3 linked regions of the Homo sapiens genome follow. The protein of the gene in region 1 purifies or fractionates together with the protein of each later gene. This does not show direct contact. Each region holds a gene or a part of one and is shown in the gene's direction. Other genes may lie near its edges.

Region 1 (10,435 bases):
CCTCCTTTAACCTCGTATTCTCTTGCATAGAGCAGCGTATCCTCCGTTTGACTGCTGGTTCATAGCTCTGTTTCTGCTTTGCAGGACGGAGAGAGATGCTTCAAATTGGTCCACGGATAAGCTGAAAACACTGTTCCTGGCAGTGCAGGTTCAAAATGAAGAAGGCAAGTGTGAGGTGACGGAAGTGAGTAAGCTTGATGGAGAGGCATCCATTAACAATCGCAAAGGGAAACTTATCTTCTTTTATGAATGGAGCGTCAAACTAAACTGGACAGGTAAGTCTAAGCTGGGCTGTCAGAGAGATTAACTGTGTTTTGTTTAACCTGTTAAGTAGCTGGAGAGAACAGTTTTGAGGAGTTACAGACCTTGAAGGGAGAAGGCAGATGTTGCTGCTTTGGAGTCCTATGTAAAGCAGTATCGAGTCCTGGAATTTCTTTGCCATTGTGGGATGCTAAATGGATTTCCTGTGTCTGGGTCTCATAAGTCCCATCCATGAAGTGGCCGGGCCACTGCATCTTTGGGCCTTGGTCTTTGTTGGGACACCTACGATGATATTTCTTCAGACTAGCTACATGTATCTTGTGAGTGATTTAAAAGGAGGAAGGAGAGGATTTTTTTGGTCTTGATCTTTGTGCACTGTCTTCAGTGTGAATCTTAACAGATTAAACCACTGCGCTAATGAAGCTTGTGTGTGACAGTAATTTGGGGCTGTTTTATCTATCTTCTAGTTTTATGTCCCTTGTGTATGACATTAGGAAAAAATTGAGGTCATGCGTATGACCGTTTTGGACAGTCCTGACTGTCGGGAGCCTGAATGTAAAAAGGCACTAAAGCTAAGGGAGTATGAGATAGCTACTGTCTGTGTATGGGGCAAAGCATGAAATTTGTGCTTTGATAAACATTTCCGAAGTGAACAGTCATATCATAAAGAAGGGTGCAAGTAGATCTATCTGTCCATGATTTTTGTTAATTTGTTTTTAAAGTACACTCGAAGCATAGTAGTGTGGAAGGAATCTTCGGTGTCATCTTGCTCAGACCTCCTTTTTTTTTTTTTAGACAGAGTTTTGCTCGTCACCCAGGCTGGAGTGCAGTGGCACGATCTTGGCTCACTGCAACCTCCACTTCCCGGGTTTAACCAGTTCTCCTGCCTCAGCCTCCCAAGTAGGATTACAGGTGCCCGCCACCACGCCCGGCTAATTTTGTATTTTTATTAGAGATGGGTTTCACCATGTTGGCCAGGCTGGTCTCGAACTGTGTCTGGCCGACGCTTTTTTTTTTTAATATAGGGACTAAAAATTGGTAGCATAGTTTTGTGCACATTAAATGGTAAGAAATAGATAAATATAGGCCGGGCGTGGTGGCTAACGCCTGTAATCCCAGCACTTTGGGAGGCCAAGGTGGGCGGATCACGAGGTCAGGAGATCAAGACCATCCTGGCTGACACAGTGAAACCCCGTCTCTACTAAAAATACAAAAAATTAGCCCGGCGTGGTGGCATGTGCCTGTAGTCCCAGCTACTCGGGAGGCTGAGGCAGGAGAATCGCTTGAACCCAGGAGGCGGAGGTTGCAGTGAGCTGGGATCGCACCGTTGCACTCCAGCCTGGGCAACAGAGTGAGACTCCATCTCAAAAAAAATAAAAAATAGGTGAATACTACAATAAATATGGTGCTTTACCATGAAAAAGACCTGAAGTTTATTTGTGAAAGTGGGCATCAAAGCCAGGCGCGGCGGCTCACGCCTGTAATCTCAGCACTTTGGGAGACTGAGGCAGGTGGATCACGAGGTCAGGAATTGGAGACACACCTGGCCAACATGGTGAAACCCCATCTCTACTAAAAAATACAAAAATTAGCCGTGTGTAGTGGCACGCACCTGTAATCCCAGCTACTTGGGAGGCTGAAGCAGAAGAATTGCTTGAACCTGGGAGGTGGAGGTTGCAATGAGCCAAGATCATGCCACTGCAATCCAGCCTGAGCGACAGAGCAAGACTCTGTCTTGCGGGGGGAAAAGGTGGGCATCAGAAGGGTTGCAGCTTGAGGACTACTATGGAATGGTAGAAGGAGAGTCATCCACAATCAGAGGGAACATTACACTCGTTGAGGATGGGTATGGCTCACAACACACGCTGTAAACTGAGGTCATTGGCAGATAGGTGTTTGAGATGTGTGTGTTTTATGTATCCTGTGTAGCTGGGTGAGGCTTTCCGTATTCACCTAGTGTTTCTCATGGATGGAGTCACATATAAGCAAACATGAACTTCTCATTATAATCAAATTGTTCCCTAATATTTCAGTTGCACTGAAATAAATTGATATTTTCAAAACAAGTATTCTAGCAGAACTACTGGCTTTTGACCCAAGTTCTCATGGTATAACTCATGCTAGTACCAAATCTGTAGCTCTTTGTCTCACATTGTAATAACATAGTTGGTTTCCAGTAACCTGGTGAGGAAAGACATTTCTTTTGGGGGTGCGGGTGTTGATTGCATCTGGCATGTGGCATTCTCAGAATAAAGAGGATCAGTTCAGCCATCCAAAAGCAGCAGAAGTGAGGTAGCAGTTAGGACCCTGGAGCAGAGACCTTTCCTGCCAAGGAGTGGACTAATGACATTGCATTGGTTTTGACAGGTACTTCTAAGTCAGGAGTACAATACAAAGGACATGTGGAGATCCCCAATTTGTCTGATGAAAACAGCGTGGATGAAGTGGAGGTTTGTGCTTCATAACTCCTAATCCGAGTCCTCTATATCCTCTTATTCTCAGATGAGAAAAGTGACCTGTCATTCAGGATTCATAGCCCAGGCTTGGTCCAAGCATTCAGAACCCTAGCCTGCAGATAATTTTCTAGGCATATGGTGCCATTGGAAACTTCTAGAGCAATTTGCACTTCTTTAATTTCTTCACTTTAGCTAGTGACATGGGTTCTAACTAACATTAGCCACTTGACAGAGAGGACTCAAGAAGGAACACTAATGGGGATTGTACGAATACCGCAGTACTCATGCATTTCCTTTGGAAATGTCAGCAGTCACCTGATTGCTCAGCCCCCACATTCCATAATGAGGGTGCCCCTCAAGTTATTTACCACCTACTTCTCATCTTTCACCCAGATTAGTGTGAGCCTTGCCAAAGATGAGCCTGACACAAATCTCGTGGCCTTAATGAAGGAAGAAGGGGTGAAACTTCTAAGAGAAGCAATGGGAATTTACATCAGCACCCTCAAAACAGGTATCCCTTGAGTAGTTCTGTATGCCTTAAGGAGGTAGTTTCCACCTGTTAGACTCTGGTTAAGGGCCTGGACAGTCCTTTCTTTGGCAAATGGGTAAAGATTTGGGGGGAGGGGGCTTATTTCATCTTAAAGTCAGTCCATAAGCTCGGAGTAAGGGAAAGATCTGGAGCTGTGTTGCCTAATAATGATGGTTGAGCATTTTAGATGTGGCTAGACCAAACTGAAATGTACTGTGATGGCCTGGCGCGGTGGCTCACACTTGTAATCCCAGCACTGTTGGATGCTGAGGTGGGCTGATTGCCTGAGCTCAGGAATTTGAGACCAGCCTGGGCAACATGGCGAAACCCTGTCTCTACAAAAAATACAAAAATTAGCTGGATGCGGTGGCCCATGCCTGTAATCCCAGCTACTCGGGAGGCTGAGGTGGGAGAGTGGCTTGAGCCCAGGAGGCAGGGAGGTTGCATTGAGCTGAGATCATGCCACTGCACTCCAGCCTGGATGACCAAAAAACACAAGAGATGTGCTGTGAGTATAAATTACACTACGGGCTGGGCACAGTGGCTCACACCTATAATCCCAGCCCTTTGGGAAGCCGAGGTGGGCGGATCACCTGAGGTCGGGAGTTCGAGACCAGCCTGACCAATAGAGAAACCCCATCTCTACTAAAAATACAAAATTAGCCGGGCATGGTGGTGCATGCTTGTAATCCCAGCTACTCAAGAGGCTGAGGCAGGAGAATTGCTTGAACCCAGGAGGTAAAGGTTGCGGTGAGCCAAGAACGCGCCATTGCACTCCAGCCTGGGTGACAGAGGGAGACTCCATCTCAAAAAAAAAAAAAACAAAAAAAAAACTGTATTTGAGGCTCACATTATATTTCTAATGGACAGCGCTAATCTAAAGACTTGGCATCTCTGGACTCATTACTTGAATACAGTCTGGACTATCTTTGATATGCACTCTCCAGGGATATTTAGATGCTTAGAATAGAAGTCAGCTCAGCTTTCCCCTGGGATTCCATTTCTGCCAGTGTATTCTGATCTTGGTGTTGGAATATGTATAATAACCATCAAAGAAGGTGATGGAAGGTGATAGACACCTTTTTGGGGAGGACCAGTACACCAGTGCCATAACTAGTTGTGGCTTTTCTGCAGAGGTAAGGCAGAGTGGAGGAAAGGCACTAACCATGCATCCATAGGTGCTGGGTAGATTACCCACTCTTGAAGTCATCAAAGTGCCACGGCGTTCACGCCATCCTTCCATAGTAGACCTCACATGCACTTAATATGTTATAATGTTTCCAGTTGAGTCAGGATAAGCTTTTAAAAATAATCCCAGTGGCCAGGTGCAGTGGCTCACACCTGTAATCCCAGCACTTTTGGAGGCCGAGGCTAGTAGATCACAAGGTCAGGAGATCAAGACCATCCTGGCCAACATGGTGAAACCCCGTCTCTACTAAAAATACAAAAATTAGCTGGGCATGGTGGTGCACGCCTATAATCCGAGCTACTCAGGAGGCTGAGGCAGGAGAATAGCTTGAACCAGGGAGTCAGAGGTTGCAGTGAGTTGGAGTGCAGGCTGCACTCCAGCCTGGTGACAGAGCAAGACTCCATCTCAAAAAAAAAATAATAATAATCCCAGTGAACATACTGTATTCTATAGCATATACCCAGGTACCAGTCTGGCATAGGCCAAAAGTAAAGATGTAAAAATAGCCTCTTCCTTTTCTGGTCATAACCTCATTCTGTGGTAGGATGGCTGTGTTTGTCAAGCTGTAATGAAACTCCAGATCTCAGCTACTAAGAAGTAACTTCCATGAGCTGGAATTTTATCTTTTCAGAGTTCACCCAGGGCATGATCTTACCTACAATGAATGGAGAGTCAGTAGACCCAGTGGGGCAGCCAGCACTGAAAACTGAGGAGCGCAAGGTAAATGGTTTTCCTGGGGTGGGAGACTGTCTGCAAAGGAACTTGAGAGACCGCCTTCTTAATTCCACATATCAGCTCTCTGTGTCCCTAACCTCTAAGCCAGACCAGCCTGCGATCTGCTCATGGTGCTTTTTCAGAGCGCCTGCAATATGCATTCATTCACCCATCTTTAACCTGGTTTTAATTCATTTATCGCAGACCTTTAGAGCAAGTAGGAGCTATCAGACAGTTAAAAGTCTGACTCTTGATTGCATTTAGCACCAGTTAGGAGGTTATGAACAAAGGATGGACTTCACCTATATAAGTCTTCAGTCTAATTGGTGTGTTGATATTTCATACTTTGATATTAGAGGTCCCATCAAGAAATGGAGTTACATCCCTGTCTTCACCCAATCTCCCCAATTTTCAGGGTGAGCAAGTACTTTATCTAGAGATGGAAGTTTGTGGTTCAAGCTCAGCACTTGGTTTAGAGCCCTGTTGCTCTTTTGTCAGCATAGTGAAGTGGATACTCTGGAAGTGGGGAGAAAACCGCTTCCAGCTATTTAAACATAGAAATTGTTTGAGAATTACACTGAGCTCTTCAAAAATATCTCAATGATTTGATTTGTTATTTGACTATCAGGGTCTTCCTTGTAGAGTGGTTATTTTTACTGGGAATTGAGGAGGTTTCCAGAATCATTACCCTCATGACTGAAACACCTACACACTCAAATTCCCTTCAAACCCCTTGGAATAATTACCCTTGGAGGTGAACATTTTTATGAGAATGAATGGTACAACTGTCTCTGAAGCCACGTTGATTGAGGTTGTATCATTACTCTGTATTGATCATTTTCACTGCCACCTTCACAGGCTAAGCCTGCTCCTTCAAAAACCCAGGCCAGACCTGTTGGAGTCAAAATCCCCACTTGTAAGATCACTCTTAAGGAAACCTTCCTGACGTCACCAGAGGAGCTCTATAGAGTGTTTACCACCCAAGAGGTAAGTAAGTCTTGTCCTTCAGGCCTCATGCCATCTGCCCTTCTAGGTGACTTGAGTTGGGGGCATATCCCTTCAGCAGTGTACAGAAGAGGTACTCACAAACTCACAACTGGAGCCATGAGGCCTTCATCAAAGTGAATTTTTCCCTCCCTCTATTCTCTTTTTTTTTTTTTGAGACGGAGTCTCGCTCTGTCACCTGCCCAGGCTGGAGTGCAGTGGCACAATCTCAGCTCACTGCAACCTCTGCCTCCCAGGTTCCAGCAATTCTCCTGCCTCAGCGTCCTGAACAGCTGGTACTATAGGCACACGCCATCACGCCTAGCTAATTTTTATGTTTTTTAGTAGAGATGGGGTTTCACCATATTTTTTAGTAGAGATGGGCTGGTCTGAAACTCCTGACCTCAAGTGATCTGCCTGCCTCAGCCTCCCAAAGTGCTGGGATTACAGGTGCAAACCACTGTGCTCGGCCATATTTATTTATTTTAAAAACAAAAGACCTGGTCTTGCTATGTTGCCCAGACTAACGTTGAACTTCTGGGCTCAAGCGATCCTCCTTCCTCAGCCTCCTGAGTAGCTGGGACTACAGGTGCACACTACCGTGCCTGTTCCAGTTTTGGGTCATATAAGTAGAAACCACTGAGTGAATCTTACTAGAAAAGTGAATGGCCATTCTTGGTTACTCTGTAGCACAGAAGAATTCCTGGCTTCTTTGTGTTGCACAGCTGACTTGTGCCATTCTGCTGCTATAGTGTGGAGTTGAGAAACATGACCGTATTCAGCTTTATTATCTGATAGTAAAGGTGGTTAGGATATGTGGAAGTTCCCATATACTCTGGGACAAAATTTCAAGATCTTATTTTTTAAACAAAAATGTAAATACAGCCATAAATTAAGAGGTACCATGTAGTATATGGGTGTTAGTATGTCTGTGCGCCTGCACCCAAAATACTCTCGTGATAAGTTCTCTCCCCCTTAGAAAACCAAGAACTGGAGAAGCAATTAAATGGACTGGGTTTTCTAGAAATTTAAAAAGATGTGTATAAACAAAATTGTACTGTACTTCAGAAAGTTATCTTAGTTGACTCCAGAGATGTGTTATGACCTGGCTATGCCAAAGACTGCATTCGATGGCTAACTTGGTTCTACTTGGTGCCTGCTGCCTTGAAGGACTTAGCAGCATAGCTGTGGTCTTCATGTGAATTGAATTTAGCACTTCAACACAGACTTCAGTTGAATCTCTGCTTCCAAACTAGCTAAAGTTTTCAGAGTTTTAAAATACTTTTGTATGGGAGGATTCCTAACATTTTTAACCTTCTGTTTATTTTTAATTTTGTACCATGTATTCGTATTACCTACTTTAAAAAATAGTAAAGTCTTATTAAAAGTAAAAGCGGCACCGTTGGGTAATCGAACACAGCAAAATGATACTGATTTCATATATATGGAGTAGGCCAGGCACAGTGGCTTACATCTCTAATCCCAGCACTTTGAGGGGCTGAGGCGGGTGAATTACTTGAGCCCAGGAGTTTGAGACCAGCCTGGCCAACATGGTGAAGCCCTGTCTCTACAAAAAATACAAAAATTAGCCAGGTATGGTGGTATGCGCCTGTAGTCCCAGCTCCTCAGGAGGCTGAGGTGGGAGGATCACCTAAGCTTAGGAGGTCGGGGCTGCAGTGAGCCATGATCATGCCACTGCACTTCGGCCTGGGCAACAGAGCGAGACCTATCTCAAAAAAAATAAAAGGGCTGGGCGCGGTGGCTCACGCCTGTAATCCCAGCACTTTGGGAGGCCAAGGTGGGTGGATCACGAGGTCAGGAGTTCAAGACCAGCCTGGCCAAGATGGTGAAACCCCATCTCTACTAAAAAATACAAAAAGTTAGCCAGGCATGGTGGCATGCGCCTGTAATCCCAGCTACTACAGAGGCTGAAGCAGAGAATTGCTTAAAACCTGGACGGGCGGAGGTTGCGTGAGCCGAGATCGCGCCACTGCACTCCAGCCTGGGCAACAAAGTGAGACTCCGTCTCAATAAATAAAAAAATAAAATAAAATAAAAGATGGAATAGATCTATTTTGGGACATGTTCTCAGAAATGATAATAGAAGTCTCAAACATTTACTTGAGAATTTTCTTTCATAAGCTCATTCTTATATCTTTCTGAACCATATACAATTTCAAATAAATAAAAGTAAACGGGTCCAAAGTAATGGCATCATCAGATCAGAAAGAATTCCCGAAGTCAAGTCCTGGCTGGTATTAAAACAGAATAGAGGGACACCCTGGACCCGCCTGTGGGGCAGACTGGTGGAAATGAGAGTTGAGGCATGCAGCCTTCAGCTGGCATTTGTCCTTGGGTCCCACTGAAAGCCATGTATCTTCTGCCTCTTTTTTTTTTTTTTTTTTTTTTTCCCTGCAGCTGGTGCAGGCCTTTACCCATGCTCCTGCAACATTAGAAGCAGACAGAGGTGGAAAGTTCCACATGGTAGATGGCAACGTCTCTGGGGAATTTACTGATCTGGTGAGTACCTGCCGGCCCTAGACTCAGGTTATTGCCTCTGGTCAGATGAGTGACATTTCTCTTTTTCTGAACTCTATAGGTAAAATGTAAGGCTTTAATCTCTTTGTTAATAAAACATTTTGTTTTTCAAAAAAAGGCTGTGATTTGAACTGTCTTGCAAGTAATATAATTGCACAGATGGTAGACTCCGTATGAAGGGCAGATGACTGATCCTAGCTAGGATTGGGTACATTGTAGTATATAATATAGACTGAGCTGTTTGATTATTTTAGGTCCCTGAGAAACATATTGTGATGAAGTGGAGGTTTAAATCTTGGCCAGAGGGTAAGTAAACATATTTATTGCCATTACCCCCAGAACTTTTTCTCTTTGCTGTAATTTTTTTTTTTTTTTTTTTGGAAACAGGGTCTCACTGTCACTCAGGCTAGAGTGCAGTGGCATAATCACAGCAAACTGCAGCCTTAACCTCCCAGACCCAAACGATCCTCCTGCTTCAGCTTCCCAAGTAGCTGAGACTACGTGTGCCACCATGCCAGCTTTTTTTTTTTTTTTTTTTTTTTTACTTTTTTACTTTTTTTGTAGAGATGGGGTCCTACTACATTGTCCAGGCTAGTCTCGAACTCCTGGGCTCAAGTGATCCTCCTGCCTCAGCCTCCCAAAGTGCTGGGATTACAGGTGCATGCCACCACGCCCACGTAATTTTAGTAGAGATGGAGTTTCACCATGTTAGCCAGGCTGGTCTGGAACTCCTGACCTCTGGTGATCCGCCCACCTCAGCCTGCCAAAGTGCTGGGATTACAGGTGTGAGCCACCACGCCCAGCCAGGTTGCCCCAGTCTTAAACTCAGATGGAAACCTAGATATGAAACCTCCGTCCCCTCTGCCTTTCCCAGGACACTTTGCCACCATCACCTTGACCTTCATCGACAAGAACGGAGAGACTGAGCTGTGCATGGAAGGTCGAGGCATCCCTGCTCCTGAGGAAGAGCGGACGCGACAGGGCTGGCAGCGGTACTACTTTGAGGGCATTAAACAGACCTTTGGCTATGGCGCACGCTTATTTTAGGGCCAGCGGCAGGGGACTCCAGCCTGCTGGACACTTCAGTCCAGCTCTCTCCTGACTGGGGCTTGCGACTCACAGGATTGCATCGTCCCAGCTGCTAACTTGGGGCCGGGGCCCCTCCCTTCCACATATACCTTGGGTTTGTGCATGTTTTCTGCTGGGTGGGTTCAGAGGGCAATTTCTCTTTTATGTGTACATATGCTAAATAAACATAATTTAAAAAACATGCGTGTCTGGAACCTATGTTGATTGAGTGGCTGGTATTGAGAGCTCCCTTGAAGGTTTTGAATTCAAAAAAGAAGGACAGGGTGGACAGCCTTGTCTCTATTCTGGGTAAGTGTAGGTAATTAAGAGGCACAGAGCCTGCTTCTCACTACCAGGCATTCCTGAGCTAGTCTTTCTTACTAGTAAATAGTTTCTGCCTTTTTACCCATAACAGTAGGGGAGGGTTGGTACTTGGGTAGGGAGTGCTAACACTATGCCTCTACTGCCAGTGCAGTTGACTTCTCACTTTGCACTGCCCATGGCCTCTTACCCTCTTGCAAAGATAAGTGATCACCAGATGCTGGTTTGGGATATGGGAAGGTGGGAGATTCCTAACTTGTGGCAGCTTCTGTTACATTGCAGTTACTGAGTACTAGACACTACACTGTTTACTTGCATTAACTCATTTGATCTCTATAATACGCAGTAGGTACTGTTGTCATTTGTTTTACAAGA
Region 2 (10,435 bases), on another chromosome or scaffold:
CTGAGTACCCCCCTCTAGGGCTCCCAGCCACCTCCATGCCCCGGCTTTGGGACCCTGCCTCTCCATTTCTTTGATGGCCCTTAGCAGGCTGGCCACCTGAGGCCTTGTCCCCATCTCAGGTGACCCTGCCTGCTCCTCACTGTGAGCCCCCTGGTGCCCTAGGGATGGCCTGGGACAAGCTCCAGGAGCCTTGGAAGGCTGAGACTCAGGCGAGTGGAAGCCGACACAGGCGCAGAAACCAGTAACTGCTGGGGAGGCCAGGGCTGCAGGGCTCCAGTGGGGTACCCCAGCCAATACCCTGAACTGAATGGGTCAGGGCCCAGAGGCGGGCCTGTTCCCAGAGCACGCAGCCCCTCCCAGCGAGAGCGGGGTCAGGGCCCAGGAACTGGCCACATGAGGAAGGGAGCCGCAGGAGCCAGGGCCCGCACGGACCCTCAGGGTGGTGCTTGGCCCCATGGGTGTCCACCTGTTCTGGGTGCCGAGGCTGTTGACGGGGGTGTCGTGGCCGGGATGTGTGGGGCACTCACACCGCCCGCCCTGCAGAGCAGCCATGGAGGAGGTGGTGATTGCCGGCATGTCCGGGAAGCTGCCAGAGTCGGAGAACTTGCAGGAGTTCTGGGACAACCTCATCGGCGGTGTGGACATGGTCACGGACGATGACCGTCGCTGGAAGGCGGGTATGTGGCTGCGGGGCTCCCCGTGCCTGGGGTGTGAAGCTCCATCTCCACCTTTGTCCTCACAGCAGCCTCCCTGCTGTGCTGTGTCCTCACCACCCAGGCACTGGCCTGAGGCCGGTCCCAGCTGCAGAGCCACTGGTCACCCATGGGCGAGGCCTAGCTGCAGCCTCCTTCCTGGACATTGCACCAGAGTGGCCTAGAAAATGCGCCCAGCCTGCCAGGAGGTTCCCTCAACGGCTGCAAGGCCAACAGGAGGCTCCCCCAATGGCTGCAAGGCCGAGGGCTGGCCCAGGCAGGGCCCATCTGCTTGTTACGGAGGAGCCAAGCTCAGAGGATGGGTGACGGGCTGGGGTCTCTCACCCATGCAGGGGGTGCGGGGGGCCAGAGCCCTTCCGGCCAGGCTGCCCCTGCCTGTGTCTGTCCTGAGCTGGGAGGTTGCATACCAGATGTGCTCCGGGAGGCTGGAGCAACTGCCCCACACCCAGTAGGCTCTTCCACAGAGCAGCTCTACCTGACAGGCAAGCTGTGAGTCAGCATGGTAGAGCCGAGGCACCAGCCCGGCAGATGGTCCCCCAGCCTCACTCCCGCCGAGCTCTCTGCTCTGCGGCCCATCTCAGGATTGGGGCTTGGGGCTTGGGGCTTGTGCAGCAGATCTGGTCGTACCAGTCCCCGCTTTGGGGCCATGGTCTTCCCCTCCTGGGGAGCCTGCTCCATTGTTTGGGCCTCCCAGGCATAGCAGAGAGTCCTCAGTTCCACCATGGCCCCTCCAGGGGCCTGCAGCACCCCACAGGGCCCCCACCTCTGGGCAGCTTCCGTCAGAGATTTAAACACCCGCCTGTCCCACAGGGCTCTACGGCCTGCCCCGGCGGTCCGGCAAGCTGAAGGACCTGTCTAGGTTTGATGCCTCCTTCTTCGGAGTCCACCCCAAGCAGGCACACACGATGGACCCTCAGCTGCGGCTGCTGCTGGAAGTCACCTATGAAGCCATCGTGGACGGAGGTGGGTCGGGCATTCGCGACTGCTGCGCCGAGGGCTCCTGCTGCTCACGTGGAATAGGCAGTGTTTTCTCTTCTTGGTTCTGGTAGAACCAGGTGCTGGCACCACCTACCCTCCCCGGCTGTGCCCCTGGCCTGGCCAACGGGCTCAGGGAGGTGTGGGCCACGGGGTAGGCCGCAGTTTCCCAACTGCACCCCAGAGGTGTCGCGGGTGTGCCCTGACCTGAGCGTACCAGTCTCCTCGCTTCTGATGTCTGGCTGGTGCTGGGGCCGGGGCCGGGGCTGGAGTGACGAGAGGCAAAGCAGGAGGTTCTTGAGGGGCCCTCCAGGCCCCCACCCCCACCAGCCAAGCAGCGGACAGCACCGGCCCTGCTGTCTCTCCCCTCCCACCCTCCCCACTACCCTTGCCCACGTCCCCCCACCCCAGGCATTTCAACCCTCTCCCGCCAGCCTGGCCCTCGCTCTGACTGGCATTTGACCTCGGACAAGCGCCACGCCGTTTTTTTATTTTTATTTTTATTTATTTATTTATTTTTAAGACGGAGTCTCACTCTGTCACCAGGTTGGAGTGCAGTGGCGCGATCTCAGCTCACTGCAAGCTCTGCCTCCTGGGTTCACACCATTCTCCTGCCTCAGTCTCCTGAGTGGCCGGGACTACAGGCGCCCACCACCACGCCCGGCTAATTTTTGTATTTTTAGTAGAGATGGGGTTTCACCATGTTTGCCAGGATGGTCTCGATCTCTTGACCTCGTGATCCATCCATCTCAGCTTCCCAAAGTGCTGGGATTACAGGCATGAGCCACCACGCCCAGCCATGCCATTTCTTAAGATCCAGGTGCTCCCTCCCCGGGCGGAGAAGGACCTCCTGAGGGGGAGGCTGAGCCCTGGGCTGCCCTTGGGTGTGAGCGGTTCACACACCCACCCACCCTAGGGCAGAGCCAGCCCACCAGGGGCGAGGAGGGGCCCTGCTGGCCGAGAGGTGGAAGCCCTTCTCCTGCGCCCTTCCTGCTGCCAGACCCCACCCCAAGACTAAGGTTATGCTCCCCGGGGGTGACCGGTGTCCCTCTCTCCTTCCCGAGCCTGGACACTTGGCCTTTGTCTCCTCGGTTCCTTATCACGGCCTGTTCTGGTGCAGGCTGCCCTTGGCGCTGGAGAGGCCACTGGCCGACGGGCTCATCAGAGCTGCCGGTGACACCAGGGGCCAAAGGCGTCGCCTGGGGACAATGCTGCCCTCTGTCCTTCCTGGAGCCACTCTGGCCGTGCCTGGTGCCCTCCCCTGGGCCCGCCTGCCCCCTCCGCCTCGTTCCCTCTGTGACCTGGTTCCTGTTCCAGGCCTCACCTGGGCTGGCTGCTGGCCACAGGCTCTGTTCTGGCCCCTCTGCAGGACACCTCACCCTCCTTAGGCCCCTTCCAGGGTCCCACTGGGATGGACCCCCCCTCACCCCAAGCCAGTGAGGCCAAGATGGGACCTTCGCCCCAGAGCCGGGTGGGTGGGTGGGCTGGCTGCGCTGTGGGGCCCGGCCGTGGCACCTTGACCACTGTTTGTGGCAGGCATCAACCCAGATTCACTCCGAGGAACACACACTGGCGTCTGGGTGGGCGTGAGCGGCTCTGAGACCTCGGAGGCCCTGAGCCGAGACCCCGAGACACTCGTGGGCTACAGCATGGTGGGCTGCCAGCGAGCGATGATGGCCAACCGGCTCTCCTTCTTCTTCGACTTCAGAGGTGGGTCCTGCCCAGCCTCCTGCGGAGGTGGGTGGCCTTCAGGTCCCCACATGCTGAGCAGAAACCACGTGGCGTGGGCTCACTCCGTGCAGTGTGTGTCCAGCCTGGTGGCAGGAGGTGTGCTCAGGGGTCTCGTGTGCTCACAGCCCCACCTGAGCCGCAGCACCCTTCCTTGCAGGGCCCAGCATCGCACTGGACACAGCCTGCTCCTCCAGCCTGATGGCCCTGCAGAACGCCTACCAGGCCATCCACAGCGGGCAGTGCCCTGCCGCCATCGTGGGGGGCATCAATGTCCTGCTGAAGCCCAACACCTCCGTGCAGTTCTTGAGGCTGGGGATGCTCAGCCCCGAGGGCACCTGCAAGGCCTTCGACACAGCGGGTGAGTGTGCGGCTGCGCGGCCAGGGCAGGCGGGACAGTGGCACAGGACGGCCCCCCGCACAGTCCCCACGCTGAGCAGGATCCTGCCAGCTCCGGGGATCCCCCACCCAAGCACCCACCCCACACCCCAGAGCTCCTCCTGGTGGGGTGGGGGCCGGCGTGGGGCTGAGCCCCGGGCCTGAGGTGCTGCTCTACCCAGGGAATGGGTACTGCCGCTCGGAGGGTGTGGTGGCCGTCCTGCTGACCAAGAAGTCCCTGGCCCGGCGGGTGTACGCCACCATCCTGAACGCCGGCACCAATACAGATGGCTTCAAGGAGCAAGGTGGGCTCTGCCGGGGTTCCGGGGTGCTGGGGGGCAGGTGGGAGCCGGGGCTGGGGCTGCAGCACTGAGCCGAGCCCTCCGCAGGCGTGACCTTCCCCTCAGGGGATATCCAGGAGCAGCTCATCCGCTCGTTGTACCAGTCGGCCGGAGTGGCCCCTGAGTCATTTGAATACATCGAAGCCCACGGCACAGGCACCAAGGTGATGCCCCCCCCCCCCGCCCCACTCACCACCCCATGAGCCTAACCTACGCCCATGCCTGGAGAGGTGACCTGGCCAGAGCCCCTCACCCCCCATGTTTCCCACAGGTGGGCGACCCCCAGGAGCTGAATGGCATCACCCGAGCCCTGTGCGCCACCCGCCAGGAGCCGCTGCTCATCGGCTCCACCAAGTCCAACATGGGGCACCCGGAGCCAGCCTCGGGGCTGGCAGCCCTGGCCAAGGTAGGTGGGGCTGGGCTTGGGGGTCCCTCAGGCTCCTGCTCCCTGGGACTGGGTTGCGCCATGGCTGGGCACTGCTGCTTTCTCTTTGCCAAGTGGAGGCGGGGGCTTCCCCACCAGGAGCCTCTGTCCCCCGGGCTATGCTGCAGGTCTGAGCAGAGGCACTGAGGCTGACAGCAGGGAGAGCTCGTAGCCAGGCTCGCTGGGCCTTCCCTGGAGGCCTGATGCCCTGCAGAGCGTCTGCCGGACACGGAGCCGAGCTGGAGGAGCCGCTTGGGTGGGAAGAGCGAGGCAGGAGCAGGCCTGGGGGGGTCCACGGCACCATCAGGGTCTCCCGTGTCGCCCACCCGTCCCTACAGCTTCCTGACCCACTAGCAGAGGCCTGGGGACCTTTAGAGAGACCAGGCACAGGAGCCCCAACACCCATGATCACTCACGCCCTCTGCCCCCCAACTTCTGCAGCCTCTGAGATGCAACATCTGGGCCAAGGGGGCCTTAGTGTTCAGGCCACAGCCAGGCTTTGGTGGGTCCACATCAGGCTGGGAGGCAGCAAGGCCGGAAGGGGAGGTCTTGGACCAAGCTGAGGGCAGGGCCATGGCGGCTCAGTCCTCGGACCCCTGTGCCATGGCAGAATTAGGTTGGGGACAGGAAGTGCATCGGAGAGGGCCCTGGAACCCTGGCCCCACATGAGAGTCTCGGGGAGGTGCCTGCCCCCAGCTCAGGCAGTGGTAGAGGGAGTGGGGCGGCTGCCCATCCACCACGTACCCCCGCAGGTGCTGCTGTCCCTGGAGCACGGGCTCTGGGCCCCCAACCTGCACTTCCATAGCCCCAACCCTGAGATCCCAGCGCTGTTGGATGGGCGGCTGCAGGTGGTGGACCAGCCCCTGCCCGTCCGTGGCGGCAACGTGGGCATCAACTCCTTTGGCTTCGGGGGCTCCAACGTGCACATCATCCTGAGGCCCAACACGCAGCCGCCCCCCGCACCCGCCCCACATGCCACCCTGCCCCGTCTGCTGCGGGCCAGCGGACGCACCCCTGAGGCCGTGCAGAAGCTGCTGGAGCAGGGCCTCCGGCACAGCCAGGACCTGGCTTTCCTGAGCATGCTGAACGACATCGCGGCTGTCCCCGCCACCGCCATGCCCTTCCGTGGCTACGCTGTGCTGGGTGGTGAGCGCGGTGGCCCAGAGGTGCAGCAGGTGCCCGCTGGCGAGCGCCCGCTCTGGTTCATCTGCTCTGGTGAGCCCACACTCTGCCCCCAAGGTGGTCCCTTCCCTGGGGAAAGGCAGGCGAACTGGAGCTGGTGGTCCCCTGAGGTGCTCTCTGGGACGGGGATGGGCACACAGTGGCACGGGATGGGGCTGAGCCTCGTGACGTGCTCTCTGGGACAGGGATGGGCACACAGTGGCGCGGGATGGGGCTGAGCCTCATGCGCCTGGACCGCTTCCGAGATTCCATCCTACGCTCCGATGAGGCTGTGAAGCCATTCGGCCTGAAGGTGTCACAGCTGCTGCTGAGCACAGACGAGAGCACCTTTGATGACATCGTCCATTCGTTTGTGAGCCTGACTGCCATCCAGGTAGGGCCCAGCCTGCCAGCGTGTGAGCAACGCCAGCCCCAGGGCTCTGGCTTTCCCTGGAGCCCAGGAGCTGCAGTGTTGAGTCCGGGGCCCCTGACAGCCCCTTTGCTAGGCAGAGCCTTGTGCTGGGGGCAGGACGGGAGGGGAGGAGGGGTCTCAGTGGGGCTGTGTGGGGGCCATAGGGGCTTCTTTCCTATCAGGAGACCTGGGAGGGTCGATGGGGCGCGGGGGTGGAGATGGCCTAGTGGGGCCGGGGGCCGCCCCCAACAGCTGCACCTGCTGGAGGTTGCAACCTGAGTGTCCTGTTCCCACCCCAGATAGGCCTCATAGACCTGCTGAGCTGCATGGGGCTGAGGCCAGATGGCATCGTCGGCCACTCCCTGGGGGAGGTGGCCTGTGGCTACGCCGACGGCTGCCTGTCCCAGGAGGAGGCCGTCCTCGCTGCCTACTGGAGGGGACAGTGCATCAAAGAAGCCCATCTCCCGCCGGGCGCCATGGCAGCCGTGGGTAGGTCTCCCGGAGGGGCCCCCAGCACCTCCAAGAAAGGAGGCTGCCTTCTCGCTGTGGGGTCCTCACCTGCAGCCCTGGCCTGGCCCCCGTAGGATAGAGTGGCCCCCGCTGGCCCGGGGACACCCAGCTCGGACACAGCCGTGCGCGAGTCCCCTGCAGCTGCCCCACTGGCCCCACACCTGGCAGCCTTGGGCCTAGGCACGTGTCCATGGGCATCAGGCCTGCGTGGAGCCCCCGTGTGATGAGCACACAGCTGCAGCATAGCAAGAACCCAGGGGCTCTGGTGAAGCCAACACACGGGTCATCAGGGTTCCCTCAGACTGGTGCCCTCTGTTGGCACCCATCTCTGAGCCCCATGGGCCACATGTGGGCAGGACCTGGAAAGAACCTTGGCTGCAGAGGACTGAGGGGGCCACCATCTGGGGACTGGGCTCCCAGGAGCTGCCCCTGGAGTGGCAGCTCTGTAATGACACCTCCACCCACGGGTCAAACACAGCAGGGGGCGAACCTTTCTCATGAAGGCTCCAAGGCTGCCATTACCACACTTGTCATTACTGCCCCCAGCTGCAGGCAGTGTCTGGGTGGGTGGGTGGCTGGGAGCGGCTCGGTGTCCACGCTAAGCCTCTGAGGCTGGCTCTGCCATAGGCTTGTCCTGGGAGGAGTGTAAACAGCGCTGCCCCCCGGGCGTGGTGCCCGCCTGCCACAACTCCAAGGACACAGTCACCATCTCGGGACCTCAGGTGGGTGCTGCGGCCTGGGCGGGCTCCTCTGTCCCCTGCGCCTGCCATTGCAAGTCTGGCAGGGACACGCGGCCACGGTCTACGCCCCACCAAGCTCTGACGGGCCTGGGGCATGGGGCAGGTTTGTCCTCAGGTCCCTTGCCCATTCCCTCTCGGTTCCCTTGGGGTGAGGTGGGTGCGCCCTACCTCTCCGAGCCTGAGGTGGGTGCCCAGCCAGGATGCTTATCCAGGCTCCCACGATGTCCAGGCCCCGGTGTTTGAGTTCGTGGAGCAGCTGAGGAAGGAGGGTGTGTTTGCCAAGGAGGTGCGGACCGGCGGTATGGCCTTCCACTCCTACTTCATGGAGGCCATCGCACCCCCACTGCTGCAGGAGCTCAAGAAGGTGGACTAATACGGCCTGGGGGGTGCGGGGCGGGCCAGGGGACCCACAACCCAGCACTGACCTGGCCCCTCATGCAGGTGATCCGGGAGCCGAAGCCACGTTCAGCCCGCTGGCTCAGCACCTCTATCCCCGAGGCCCAGTGGCACAGCAGCCTGGCACGCACGTCCTCCGCCGAGTACAATGTCAACAACCTGGTGAGCCCTGTGCTGTTCCAGGAGGCCCTGTGGCACGTGCCTGAGCACGCGGTGGTGCTGGAGATCGCGCCCCACGCCCTGCTGCAGGTAGGCCCAGCCTGGGGGCAGCAGGCGCCGGGAGCCTGGGATGGGCGCCTCAGCTGAGCACCAAGAGAGCCCACCTGCCCTGCCGCCCCCAGGCTGTCCTGAAGCGTGGCCTGAAGCCGAGCTGCACCATCATCCCCCTGATGAAGAAGGATCACAGGGACAACCTGGAGTTCTTCCTGGCCGGCATCGGCAGGCTGCACCTCTCAGGGTGGGTCCCTTCCCAGCCCGGGTCTCGTCTCCCGGAGTCGGGGACGGCGTGGGGTGGGTGAGCGGGGCTGCGGGCCCCTCACTGACCCAGGCCGGTGGCAGCAGCCCTGGATGGTCCACCGCAGGCAGTGGGTGGGCTGAACCCAGAGCCCCTGGACCCCGGTGACGGGTGTGCTACCCATGCCTCCCTTCTCCGTAGCATCGACGCCAACCCCAATGCCTTGTTCCCACCTGTGGAGTTCCCAGCTCCCCGAGGAACTCCCCTCATCTCCCCACTCATCAAGTGGGACCACAGCCTGGCCTGGGACGTGCCGGCCGCCGAGGACTTCCCCAACGGTTCAGGTTCCCCCTCAGCCGCCATCTACAACATCGGTGAGCAGGGGCCCGGCGGGTGGGCAGACTCTTCCCTCCCCACAGACGCCCGCTCTGTGCTGAGGCCTGTGCCCTCCCGCAGACACCAGCTCCGAGTCTCCTGACCACTACCTGGTGGACCACACCCTCGACGGTCGCGTCCTCTTCCCCGCCACTGGCTACCTGAGCATAGTGTGGAAGACGCTGGCCCGCGCCCTGGGCCTGGGCGTCGAGCAGCTGCCTGTGGTGTTTGAGGATGTGGTGCTGCACCAGGCCACCATCCTGCCCAAGACTGGTGAGGGGTACCCCAGGACCAAGGCGGGGGTAGCTGGGGGGCGGGTGCTGCCCTCTGATCTCCAACTCTCCCGCTCTGCAGGGACAGTGTCCCTGGAGGTACGGCTCCTGGAGGCCTCCCGTGCCTTCGAGGTGTCAGAGAACGGCAACCTGGTAGTGAGTGGTAAGCAGGGCCGGTGGCACGGGAGCTGCGGAGGCTGTGCCCGCTGGCCATGCCGCCCGTCCTCAGGCCCTTCCGCACCTCCCTTTCCACAGGGAAGGTGTACCAGTGGGATGACCCTGACCCCAGGCTCTTCGACCACCCGGAAAGCCCCACCCCCAACCCCACGGAGCCCCTCTTCCTGGCCCAGGCTGAAGTTTACAAGGAGCTGCGTCTGCGTGGCTACGACTACGGCCCTCATTTCCAGGGCATCCTGGAGGCCAGCCTGGAAGGTGGGTACTGACTACACTGCTGCCCAAGCCACCGGGGAGGGCGGTCGTCATTGTGGGGACCACAGAGGGCACCCACAGCTAGGCATGCAGCTTGGGAGGGAGCAGAGGGGCCCGGTGGGCTCTGGGAGGTGGCCCCAGGGACCTGGGAGTTCCACAGCACCAACCAGGCCCTGTGTGCAGGTGACTCGGGGAGGCTGCTGTGGAAGGATAACTGGGTGAGCTTCATGGACACCATGCTGCAGATGTCCATCCTGGGCTCGGCCAAGCACGGCCTGTACCTGCCCACCCGTGTCACCGCCATCCACATCGACCCTGCCACCCACAGGCAGAAGCTGTACACACTGCAGGACAAGGCCCAAGGTAGCCCCGCCCCAGCCCCAGCCCAGTGCCCCCACCCAAGTATGCCGCACTCACCCAGCCTGTCCCCACAGTGGCTGACGTGGTGGTGAGCAGGTGGCTGAGGGTCACAGTGGCCGGAGGCGTCCACATCTCCGGGCTCCACACTGAGTCGGCCCCGCGGCGGCAGCAGGAGCAGCAGGTGCCCATCCTGGAGAAGTTTTGCTTCACTCCCCACACGGAGGAGGGGTGCCTGTCTGAGCGCGCTGCCCTGCAGGAGGAGCTGCAACTGTGCAAGGGTGAGGTCCCAGCCCTGCTGGCTTCGGACACCTCTGGCGATGAGGAGCGATCGCCTCCCCTCACGTTGACCCCAGACTTGCTTCTCCACGGGGCCCCCTTTGGGGTCAGCAACCCTAGCCCAACCCTCCGGCCGGAGCTCACGATGGCGGCCTCCCTCCCTCCCCCAGCCCCCAGCCTTCCTCGTCCCTGGTCACTGTTCCTCAGTCTTGAAAGGGTACTTGGGGGCAAAGATGACAGATTCAGCCTAAGGTCACACCTTGGCTAGGCACAGAGTAGCCCCTGCAGCTGAATGCGGCCCCTCACTGCGTCCACAGTGGGCAGGAGTCAGCCTCCCAGTGGTGGGCAGCCCCTTCCTCAACCCTCAGCTATTTCTCATCCTGTGGGCAGAGCGGGGTGGTGGCCCCAGAAGGACAGAGTGGGTCTGAGAGCCCATGCCAGGCAGATGCCCTGGGGCTTTGGGAACACCAGGCCTGCCTCCCTCCCTCCCC
Region 3 (10,435 bases), on another chromosome or scaffold:
TTTATTTTGGAAGGCCGGGCGCGGTGGCTCTTGTAATCTCAGTACTTTGGGAGAGACCAAGGAGGGCGGATCACTTGAGGTCAGGAGTTCGAGACCAGCCTGGCCAACATGGTGAAACCTCGTCTCTACTCAAAATACAAAAAAAAATCAGCCGAGCGTGGTGGCGAGCGCCTGTGGTCCCAGCTACTCGGGAGGCTGAGGCACGAGAATCGCTTGAACCCGGGAGGTGGAGGTTACAGTGAGCCGAGATCGCGACACTGCACTCCAGCCTGGGTGACAGAGCGAGATTCTGCCTCAAAAAAAACAGAATGAAAAAAAGATTTTCTTTTGGAAATAGGAGTCCCCAGGTGGGAATAAACTCCGGGGTGGAAAGCCTGCCTGGGGACACTTGAGGGTAACTGGGTACACGTGGCGTGTCTGGGTTGTGAGTTCCCCGCTGTCACCTTTCAAGTTCATGCGCTCCTGGCGCCTTAGCGGTCATGGCCACCCACTTTGGGCGGGGAAAACCCCGCCGGATCCTTTCCTGATCTAATCAGTTTTGAGCTTTAGATCCTGTCCAGCCCGGTTTCTCGAAAATTTTATCTTAGCAGATTCGGTTCACCCCAATTTATTTATCTCTCTCTCTCTTTTTTTTTTTTTTTTTTTTTTTTTGAGACAGAGCCTTGCTCTGTCGCCCAGGCTGGAGTGCAGTGACACTATCTCGGCTCACTGCAGCCTCCGTCTTCCGGGTTCAAGCAAGCACATCCGGCTAATTTTTGTATTTGTAGTAGAGACGGGGTTTCACCATGTTGCCCAGGCTTGTCTCTAATTCCCGACTTCAAGTGATCCGCCCGCTTCGCCTCCCAAAGTGCTGGGATTACAGGCATGAGCCACCACGCTGGGCCCCAATTTCTTTTTTTAAATTTATTTTTCTTGAGAAAGGGTCTCCCTCTGTCACCCAGGCTGGAATGCCATGGCGCCATCACTGGCAGCCTCGACCTCCTGGCTCAAGCGATCCTCCCGGCACAGCCTCCCAAGTAGCTGGGACTACAGGCCCATGCCACCACACCGGGCTAATTTTTTTCTTTTTTTAATTTCTACTTATTTATTTTTTAGCCTTTGCTACATAGAAGGTGCCCCTTGGGCTATGTGTTTTTTAAGTTTTTTTAAGTTTTAGGGTACATGTGCACAACGTGCAGGTTTGTTACATATGTATACATGTGCCATGTTGGTGTGCTGGACCCGTTAACTCGTCATTTGCATTAGGTATATCTCCTAATGCTGTCCCTCCCCCCTCCCCCCACCCACCCGGCTACTTTTTTAAAAATTGTTTTTGTATAGACGCGGTCTCGACTTATTGTCCAGGTTGGTCTCGAACTCCTGGGCTCAAGCCATCCTCCCACGCTGGCTTCTCAAAGTGCTGGGATTACAGAAGTGAGGCACCATGCCGGGCCTGCCCCAAATTTATTTCCCCACCAACAAAACAACTTTGCTTTATTTCCTTAAAATACACCATCTCTTGGCCACCTAGATTTGGAGCCCAGAATAGACTGTGGCTTTTCTCTACCCATGGATTGGTCAGGGGATGTTCCTGTCTTTTGGCATGTCCCACCCTTTCTTTCCTTACCTCACGCCCCTACCCTGGTTACTTCTCTTTTATTTGGTGACTGGTTTTCCCTGCTACTGGTCTTAACCTACCCCTTCATCGGAGGAGTAAGTTACAGTACTCTTGGGCAGATCCTGATTGAGTGGCTCAGCTCCAATCTAATTAGCAGTTCCCTATTGCTTAACAAGTACACAGGCCCAGGCTGGGCGTGGTGGGTGGCTCATTCCTGTAATCCCAGCACTTTGGGAGGCAGAGGCAGGAGGTTTGCTTGAGTCCAGGAGTTCACGACCAGCCTGGGAAACGTGGTGAAACACTGTCTCTACTAAAACAAAAATTAGCCAGGCGTGGTGGCATGCACCTGTAGTCCCAGCTACACAGGAAGCTGAGGTGGTGGACTCACTGGGCCTGGGAGGTCGAGGCTCCAGTGAGCTATGATTGCACCACTGCACTCCAGCCTGGGTGACAGAGCGAGACCCTGTCTCAAAAAACAAAAAAACAAACAAACAAACACATGCCCTGTGTGGCTGACCAGCTCTTCCAGCTTTGTCTTCTGCCCTGACGCCAGCCAGCTAGTCCTACTCTGCATACCCCAAAAGGCTCTGGTGCTTTTCGGACTGACCTTTCTTGGCTCCTGTTTTCCCTGCTGCCTGGGAAGTGACCCCTTCAGATTGCCTGTTTGAAGGGTCAGATAAAGAGACATGTTCAACTCTGCCTGAACGCCTTTATTCTAGTTCCATTTATTCAGCCATTGCTATGGAGTGCTTATTAGCTGTTCTCACAGGGCAGGGCTGACTGGAAGCGGTGCTGTTTTAGTTGGGGCTGTGAGGAAATGCCTTTCTGGAGCAAAGGAGGCCCAAAAGAAGTGGGGGATTTGTGACCCTTCCAGGCAGCAGGAACAGCAAGTGCAAAGGTGCTGAGGTGTGTTTGAGACACGGCAGCAAGGCTGGCGAGTGAGGGGCAATGGGGGAGATGAGGTATGAGTATAGAGGAGTCGGGTTAGGAGGGGCCCGGTAGGCTGGCTTTGTGAGGACTCGAGTTTTTTTCTAAGCACAGTAGGAACCCATTAAAAGTTTTGAGCAGAATAGTGATGTACTCTTAGGTTTGTTTTTTTTTTTGAGACAGAGTCTTGGTCTTGCTCTGTCGCCCAGGCTGGAGGGCCATGGTGTGATCTCGGCTCTCTGCAACCTCTGCCTCCTAGGTTCAAGTGATTCTCCTGCCTCCAAGTAGCTGGGATTACAGGTACCCGCCACCACACCCGGCACATTTTTGGTATTTTTAGTAGAGATGGGGTTTCACCATGTTGGTCAGGCTGGTCCTGGACTCCTGACCTCAGGTGGTCCGCCCGCCTAGGCCTCCCAAAGTGCTGGGATTACAGGTGTGAGCCACCGCGCCTGGCCGTGACTTAGTTTGATAGGGTCTTTCTGGCTGCTCTGGGGAGGGGCTGGGGGATGGCAACAGGGAAACCAGGGAGGAGGATATTGGCTTAATTCAGGCAAGAGATGATGGCACCTACATGTCCAGCTGACAGTGGTTAAGCAAAATGTAGTATGTTGGTGAGATGGAACATTAGGTGACCATGGAAAGAAATGAGGCCAGGTGTGGTGGCTCACACCTGTAATCCCAGCACTTTGGAAGGCTGAGGTGGGCGGATCGCCTGAGCCCACAAGTTGGAGATCAGCTTGGGCAACATGGTGAAACCCCATCTCTGTTACAAATACAAAAATTAGTGGTGGCGGGCGCATGTAGCTCCTGCTACTAGGGAGGCTGAGGTGGGAAGATCGCTTGATTGAGCCCGGGAGGCAGAGGTTGAAGTGAGCTTTGATTGGGCCACTGCACTCCAGCCTGGGCAACAGAGCAAGACCTTGTCTCAAAGAGGGGGGAAAAAAAAGGAAGGGAGTACTGATGATGTGGTAGAGCACACTGTGCTGAGTGAAAGAAGCCAGACACAAAATGTCACAAATTATAAGATTTCATTTATGTGAAATGTCCACAACAACAGGCAAATCCATAGAAACAGAAAGCAGATTAGTGGTTGCCCGGGGCTGGGGTGGGGTGTTTAGGGTATGGATACGTAAAGGGTACAGGAGCTTTTATTTCAAGGTGATGAAGTATTCTAAAATTGCACATGTGGTAGTGGTTGCACATGTCTGTGACTACACTAAAAACCACTGAATTATCTGCCTTAAGTGGTGAGTTGTATAGCATGTAAATATCTCTGTGAAGCTTTTCTTTTTTTTTTTTTTTTTTTTTAGGCTGGAGTGAAGCGTGATTTCAGCCCATCACAACCTCCGCCTCCCAGGTTTAAGCAATTTTTCTGCCTCAGCTTCCCGAGTAGCTGGGATTATAGGCGCCTGCCACCATGCCTGGCTAAATTTTTGTATTTTTAGTAGAGTTGGGGTTTCACCATGTTGGTCAGGCTGGTCTCGAACTCCTGACTTCAGGTGACCCACCCGCCTTGGTCTCTCAAAAGTGCTGGGATTACAGGCGTGAGCCACCGCGCGCAGCCTGTAAAGCTGTTCTAGTTAAAAATAATAATAAGGCCAGGCGCGGTGGCTCACACCTGTAATCCCAGCACTTTAGGAGGCTGAGGTGGGTAGATCATGAGGTCAGGAGTTTGAGACCAGCCTGACCAACATGGTGAAACCCTGTCTCTACGAAAACTACAAAAATTAGCTGGGCATGGTGGCAAGCACCTGTAATCCCAGATACTCAGGAGGCTGAGGCAGGAGAATCTTGAACCCTGGAGGTGGAGGTTGCAGTGAGCCGAGGTTGCGCCACTGCACTGCAGCCTGGGTGACAGCAAGACTTCATCTCAATAATAATAATAATAATAATAATAATAATAATAATAATAATAATAAAACAGGTGATAGCAGCTTGGGGCCAGCATGGTAGCATAGGTGAGAACTGGCCAGAGGGCCTTGGTGGGATTCACTGCCTCATGGACAGGGAGGTTGAGAGAGAGAAAACAGCCATTGAGACAATGGAATTGCTGTTTCTGAGCCGGGAATGAGTGACAGCGAGGCCAAAAGTGGCCTAGGATCCTCAGCATCCAGCCTCAGGAAGAATTGTAGCAGCTGTCACCCTCTGCTCCACCCCCCACTGGAGTCTGGGGTAGGGGAGGAGGACGAAAGACAATTGTCCTCATGTTTGGGTCCCTTGCACCCAGCAGGCACTTGGTATGCATTAGATTAATAAAGCAAAGAGGTAGGCAGACTTTGTATTAATTCCATTTTCCATCTTCTCAGCTTTATTTTTATTGGCCCAGGCCCAATAGGAGGCCTTTCATGAGAGCACTTAATTATTCCCCTGTGCAGACCACAGAGAGTGGGAGAAGCTGGGGCTGGACAGATACTGCTTGCTCTCTCGCAAACTCAGTTCCCACCAGCATCCTGGCAGCCCCACCCCTGGGATCTTTGGGCTCCTGCCCCATGAAAGCCCAGTGGGTTCCTTGGGGAGTGATAGGGAGGGGGCTTCTCTGGGCTGAGTAGTCTGAGGAGGTTCACTGGAGCTGAGGCTTGCGTGTGGAGAAGGAGGCATTTGTGCAGAGACCTGGGGGCAGAGCATTCCTGGCGGTGACAGCCAGGTTCAAAGGCTTGGGGCAGGGGCTCCAGGGGTCTGAGCAGCTGAACAAGGCTGGGGGTGGTGTGGGATGAGGTGAGCAGGGGTCAAACCAAGGGGATTGCCTGGCCTGTGGTGAGAGTTGGGATTTTAACTCTGTGAGCCATGGGAAGCCCTTGGAGGTGGAGGGTGTTCTGTCTGTGGGTGTGGCCAGAGGGGCATGGGGGAGAGATGGGGTAGCTTGGGGGTGGGGAGGTGGAGACAGGGCGAAGCTGCGAGGTGCAGCCCAGGTAGAGCTGATGGGCTCACTCATGGAAGGAGGCGGCAGAGAATGCCATTTGAATGAAGCTTCATCATCCTTCTGTGCCCACTCGCGGGACCCTGCCTCTCTCTCTTCTCAGCATCATGGCAGAACAGGATGTGGAAAACGATCTTTTGGATTACGATGAAGAGGAAGAGCCCCAGGCTCCTCAAGAGAGCACACCAGCTCCCCCTAAGAAAGACATCAAGGGATCCTACGTTTCCATCCACAGCTCTGGCTTCCGGGACTTTCTGCTGAAGCCGGAGCTCCTGCGGGCCATCGTGGACTGTGGCTTTGAGCATCCTTCTGAGGGTACGCCTTCTGGGTGTTATCCTCTTGCCCAGGTCCTCACCAAGACAAGACCAGCCCTGCCCGCCCAGAGCGGTGCCGCCTCCAGTTTGCCGTGGGTGAGGGAGGGGCCCGTCTGTCCCGCGGATCAGTTGTGCCCAGCGGGGCCTGTGGCTGCCCTCGGCAGTGGGGCGTTCTGCTTTGACCAGGCGGATACCCCAGCCCTGCAGGTGTCTGTGGCCTTGTCCGGACTCGGCCTCTTCTGATTGCCCTCACTGTGGGCCCCCGGTCAACTGGTGAGGATCCTGCACGGGGGTGCATCCAGGTTCTCGTCCCTCACGCTCTGCTTCTCCTGCAGTCCAGCATGAGTGCATTCCCCAGGCCATCCTGGGCATGGACGTCCTGTGCCAGGCCAAGTCCGGGATGGGCAAGACAGCGGTCTTCGTGCTGGCCACCCTACAGCAGATTGAGCCTGTCAACGGACAGGTGGGTGGGCTCCTCCCTTCCTGGCCCCACCCTGCCTGTGGCGGCGGAAGTAGAGTAGGCTGGATGGGGTGGCTCACACCTGTTAGCCCAGTGCTTTGGGAAGCTGAGGCTGGAGGATTGCTTGAGCCCAGGAAGTCGAGGCTGCAGTGTGCTATGATCACACCACTGCACTCCAGCCTGGGTGGCAGAGGTAGACTCCATCTCAAAAAATAATTAGTTATAACAAAAATTAGAAATTGCCAATAAGCCAAAATAACTGGAAAGTGCCCACAGTTTGCCCCTTGCCCCAGAGGCATCGTTGCTGTTTTGCCGTGCCACTTACCTAGAGAGTGTCCATCTGTGAAGGTTGGGTTGCCCCGAATATAGCTGTCACCACTGTCCTTGCTGTTAGGCCCTGGCTGTCTTCTCCCATTGTCTTGTGTGCCACTGTCCTGGGGAGACACTTCAGTGAATTCTGGTGTCTTGCTCCCGAGTCAGGCCAGGTGCACATCTTTGGGCTTCATATTGGCGCCCGTGCCCTCGTTATCTCAGAGCACATCCTGAAGGATGAAGGTGCTGTGGAGGGCTGTGGTGTGGTCCAGTGTCTGATGGCACGGGTGGGAAGACCGGGGCCGCCCGAGTGCCGAGATTCAGGAAATCCTTAGAGAGCCAGGTCCCATGTCACCCAGGCAGGCCAGGTCTAACCATTACATTATGCGGGCCATTTTCTGTTCCATTTTCTGTTTCTTATTGTGGGTCCTGGTGTTGGGAGACAGGTTTCAATAGCTGTGGGAGGGTATAGGGAGTGAGGGGTGGGGAAGGGCCGTGAGAAGTGGGAGGCATTTGGACCGGGCCTTCAAATGGCCTGTGATGTTGGGTGCAGTGTCAGGGGGACTGGGTTGGGTGGACTCTGGTGGGGAAGGGGTTTAGGACACTGCCTAAGGTAAGGCCCTCTTCTTATGCCACTTCCCAGGTGACGGTCCTGGTCATGTGCCACACGAGGGAGCTGGCCTTCCAGATCAGCAAGGAATATGAGCGCTTTTCCAAGTACATGCCCAGCGTCAAGGTGAGTCCCTCGGGCCAGACTGGACCAGGCGCCACTTGGTTTCTGCAGCTTTGTTAGCCTCGGCTCTGGCCCAGCCAGCATTTACCAAGCTTGGCAGGGGCAGCTGCCTTTGAGGTTTGCGGTGGTTTTTGCTCCTTAAAAGCCTGATGAATTATGCATGGCTCCCAGGGGCCTGCGCAGGTCCCAGCCTGGGGCTGCCTTTGAGTGGAGCCCCGGGAGGCTCTCAGGCCTGCCTTGGTCCCCTGAGGCCTCCTGTTCGCAGGTGCTGGGCCGTGCAGGTTGGGGCCTTGGGCCGTGTATCAGCATGGAGCGGTTTCCTCCTCATCCCCATAGGTGTCTGTGTTCTTCGGTGGTCTCTCCATCAAGAAGGATGAAGAAGTGTTGAAGAAGAACTGTCCCCATGTCGTGGTGGGGACCCCGGGCCGCATCCTGGCGCTCGTGCGGAATAGGAGCTTCAGCCTAAAGAATGTGAAGCACTTTGTGCTGGACGAGTGTGACAAGATGCTGGAGCAGCTGGGTGAGTCCTCTGCCCTTGCAGCCCCAGCTGAGAGTCAGTGACTAGGCGGGCCCCATAGCAGGCGGAAGGCTCTTGAGTGGGTTACATGGGCGGCCGGCAGGCGGGGCTCCTGTGGTGATCTTGGGGAAAGCTCTGCTGCTGGCAGAGGGATGTGCTGTTTCTGAGCCCGAGCCGAATGGGACCACGGGGCCCAAGCAAGCCCCCGTCCCTCCTGGACGTAAAGGCATGCACACATACCTCTGGGAGTATGAGGCTTCTGCCACCTGTTGGGTTGGTTCCAGGCCCCGCCTGCCCTCAGTGAGCCCCGACAGGGCCGGTGGGAGATGGGCTTGTGTCCTGGGAGGCAGCTGCAGCTCTCACCCCAGCGGCTGTCTCTGCCTCAGGCTCCCCTCCCTGAAGCGTGGCTCGAGGCGCACGGGCACGGCTGCTCCGCGCCAGCGTGTAAGTGGATTGCAGCTCCTCCCGCGCCTGCGCTCGCTGGCCACCCCCCAGCCCCTCAGGCACCAGGACTGGCCACTCCCGCGGCTCACTCTGCCCTCGTCACGGTGCCACTGGCTCCCTGGCACAGGTTGGGAGGGGTCTGGGTCTGGTCTGGGGTGGGGGTCCTGCATGGCAGACGCTCATGCCCACCCATGTCTTGCCCTCCCCACCTAGACATGCGGCGGGATGTGCAGGAGATCTTCCGCCTGACACCACACGAGAAGCAGTGCATGATGTTCAGCGCCACCCTGAGCAAGGACATCCGGCCTGTGTGCAGGAAGTTCATGCAGGATGTGAGTAGGGCGAGAGTGGCAGCTTTGGCCTTCCCCAGGGGCCTGGAGCCTGGGGCCCCAGGACACCCGCACGGCCCACATGGCACGGAGGATGCTGGGATGCTGGGAGCCGGCGGAGCCTCCTTTCCTCCCCTCGGTCTTGTCAAACTGGGAGTCAAGCTTGGTCCACACCTGAGTCGGGCCAGAGCTTACATCCAGCTTTTGAGCGATGTTTACTGAGGTCTGGTGCAGCAGGTCCTCTGGGAAGTGTCGCACAAAGGAGTCGCCCACTGGAAGGTTCTGGGCAGGCGAGATGCCCAGAGGTGATCCCTGCCCGCCCCTCCCACCTCCCTTCCCACACAGCCCATGGAGGTGTTTGTGGACGACGAGACCAAGCTCACGCTGCACGGCCTGCAGCAGTACTACGTCAAACTCAAAGACAGTGAGAAGAACCGCAAGCTCTTTGATCTCTTGGATGTGCTGGAGTTTAACCAGGTGATACTTCCATCAGCCTGTCCTGGGGCTCAGGACCTTCGGGAGGTCACTGGGCCACAGGGACTGTGTGGCCCTGACTGCCACTCCTTCCCTCAGGTGATAATCTTCGTCAAGTCAGTGCAGCGCTGCATGGCCCTGGCCCAGCTCCTCGTGGAGCAGAACTTCCCGGCCATCGCCATCCACCGGGGCATGGCCCAGGAGGAGCGGTGAGTGCGAGCCGCCCGCCAAGGCTGCAGGGAGCACCACCAGGAGCCCAGTGTCTGACGGCCTCCACTTGTTTCTCCTGCACCCCAGCCTGTCACGCTATCAGCAGTTCAAGGATTTCCAGCGGCGGATCCTGGTGGCCACCAATCTGTTTGGCCGGGGGATGGACATCGAGCGAGTCAACATCGTCTTTAACTACGACATGCCTGAGGACTCGGACACCTACCTGCACCGGGTGAGCAGCCTCACGGGCATGTTGCTTTCCCCTGGCGGTGGGGTGGGGCCCCAGCCCTGCTTTTCCTCAAGTCCTGAGGTAGTATCTGTGGCCTGACCCTGATCCTGTCTGCCTGCAGGTGGCCCGGGCGGGTCGCTTTGGCACCAAAGGCCTAGCCATCACTTTTGTGTCTGACGAGAATGATGCCAAAATCCTCAATGACGTCCAGGACCGGTTTGAAGTTAATGTGGCAGAACTTCCAGAGGAAATCGACATCTCCACATACAGTAAGTGCCTTGGGCAGGGCCAGGGGTCTGGGGCAGAGGGTTCCTCCCCCGGCCCTTCAGTTCACTGCATCTCATGTCTTACAGTCGAGCAGAGCCGGTAACCACCACGTGCCAGAGCCGCCCACCCGGAGCCGCCCGCATGCAGCTTCACCTCCCCTTTCCAGGCGCCACTGTTGAGAAGCTAGAGATTGTATGAGAATAAACTTGTTATTATGGAAGCCTGGCTCCCACCCCATCTATTTCTTGGTCATCTTGGCCTTTCACGGACACCCTGGGCCCGGCCTCTGAATCACCACCAGCAGGCAAGGCCATCTTCTGTATGCATGTGTTTAATTTTAAGTGTCAACACTGAAAAATTTTAACAGATAAAAACACATTACACAACGTCTACAACCTTCACAACAGTGAGAACCTCCTGCCCGGCCAGGCAGGGCAGGCCTCTGTACCGTGAGCCTCAGGCAGTGGCCCCAAGGGGCCTCGCCATGGGGCCTCTGACATCAGTCTTAGCTTAAGAGGGAAGCTGAGCCCCAGCGCCTAGTCTCTTCAGTTCTGCAGCAAAGACATGAGAGGAAAAGTCCAGGATGGGACAAGCGCCCTTAGTCTGTCCCGAGTACTGGCCACAGGTGCCAGGGCAACATGCTGCATTGCAGCCCTGGGCCAGCCCCTGTCCCCACCCTGGGTCACAAGGTGGAGCAGAGAG

What was found.
Region 2: the proteins of AHSA1 (region 1) and FASN purify together in Homo sapiens (affinity purification with mass spectrometry; 2 studies listed by BioGRID, with this or other methods). This does not show direct contact.
Region 3: the proteins of AHSA1 (region 1) and DDX39A fractionate together in Homo sapiens (co-fractionation; 2 studies listed by BioGRID). This does not show direct contact.

Annotation. Positions count from the first base shown.
Region 1 is NC_000014.9:77,459,532-77,469,966, forward strand, and holds the end of AHSA1 (activator of 90 kDa heat shock protein ATPase homolog 1), read left to right. Parts: intron 1-84; coding exon 85-275; intron 276-2,628; coding exon 2,629-2,711; intron 2,712-3,110; coding exon 3,111-3,228; intron 3,229-5,066; coding exon 5,067-5,155; intron 5,156-6,007; coding exon 6,008-6,136; intron 6,137-8,551; coding exon 8,552-8,653; intron 8,654-8,925; coding exon 8,926-8,977; intron 8,978-9,545; coding exon 9,546-9,718; 3' UTR 9,719-9,941; downstream 9,942-10,435. UniProt on the Homo sapiens protein: Acts as a co-chaperone of HSP90AA1. Activates the ATPase activity of HSP90AA1 leading to increase in its chaperone activity.
Region 2 is NC_000017.11:82,086,561-82,096,995, reverse strand, and holds part of FASN (fatty acid synthase), read left to right. Parts: intron 1-543; 5' UTR 544-550; coding exon 551-677; intron 678-1,523; coding exon 1,524-1,676; intron 1,677-3,224; coding exon 3,225-3,398; intron 3,399-3,576; coding exon 3,577-3,777; intron 3,778-3,976; coding exon 3,977-4,099; intron 4,100-4,183; coding exon 4,184-4,299; intron 4,300-4,406; coding exon 4,407-4,541; intron 4,542-5,311; coding exon 5,312-5,774; intron 5,775-5,926; coding exon 5,927-6,114; intron 6,115-6,431; coding exon 6,432-6,621; intron 6,622-6,855; exon of another isoform or gene 6,856-7,036; intron 7,037-7,269; coding exon 7,270-7,364; intron 7,365-7,611; coding exon 7,612-7,746; intron 7,747-7,823; coding exon 7,824-8,027; intron 8,028-8,119; coding exon 8,120-8,235; intron 8,236-8,433; coding exon 8,434-8,606; intron 8,607-8,688; coding exon 8,689-8,880; intron 8,881-8,961; coding exon 8,962-9,042; intron 9,043-9,134; coding exon 9,135-9,311; intron 9,312-9,491; and 4 more. UniProt on the Homo sapiens protein: Fatty acid synthetase is a multifunctional enzyme that catalyzes the de novo biosynthesis of long-chain saturated fatty acids starting from acetyl-CoA and malonyl-CoA in the presence of NADPH.
Region 3 is NC_000019.10:14,408,337-14,418,771, reverse strand, and holds the end of DDX39A (ATP-dependent RNA helicase DDX39A), read left to right. Parts: intron 1-5,547; 5' UTR 5,548-5,551; coding exon 5,552-5,759; intron 5,760-6,093; coding exon 6,094-6,221; intron 6,222-7,173; coding exon 7,174-7,266; intron 7,267-7,599; coding exon 7,600-7,783; intron 7,784-8,437; coding exon 8,438-8,556; intron 8,557-8,898; coding exon 8,899-9,030; intron 9,031-9,126; coding exon 9,127-9,236; intron 9,237-9,324; coding exon 9,325-9,469; intron 9,470-9,587; coding exon 9,588-9,735; intron 9,736-9,819; coding exon 9,820-9,836; 3' UTR 9,837-9,974; downstream 9,975-10,435. UniProt on the Homo sapiens protein: Helicase that plays an essential role in mRNA export and is involved in multiple steps in RNA metabolism including alternative splicing. Regulates nuclear mRNA export to the cytoplasm through association with ECD.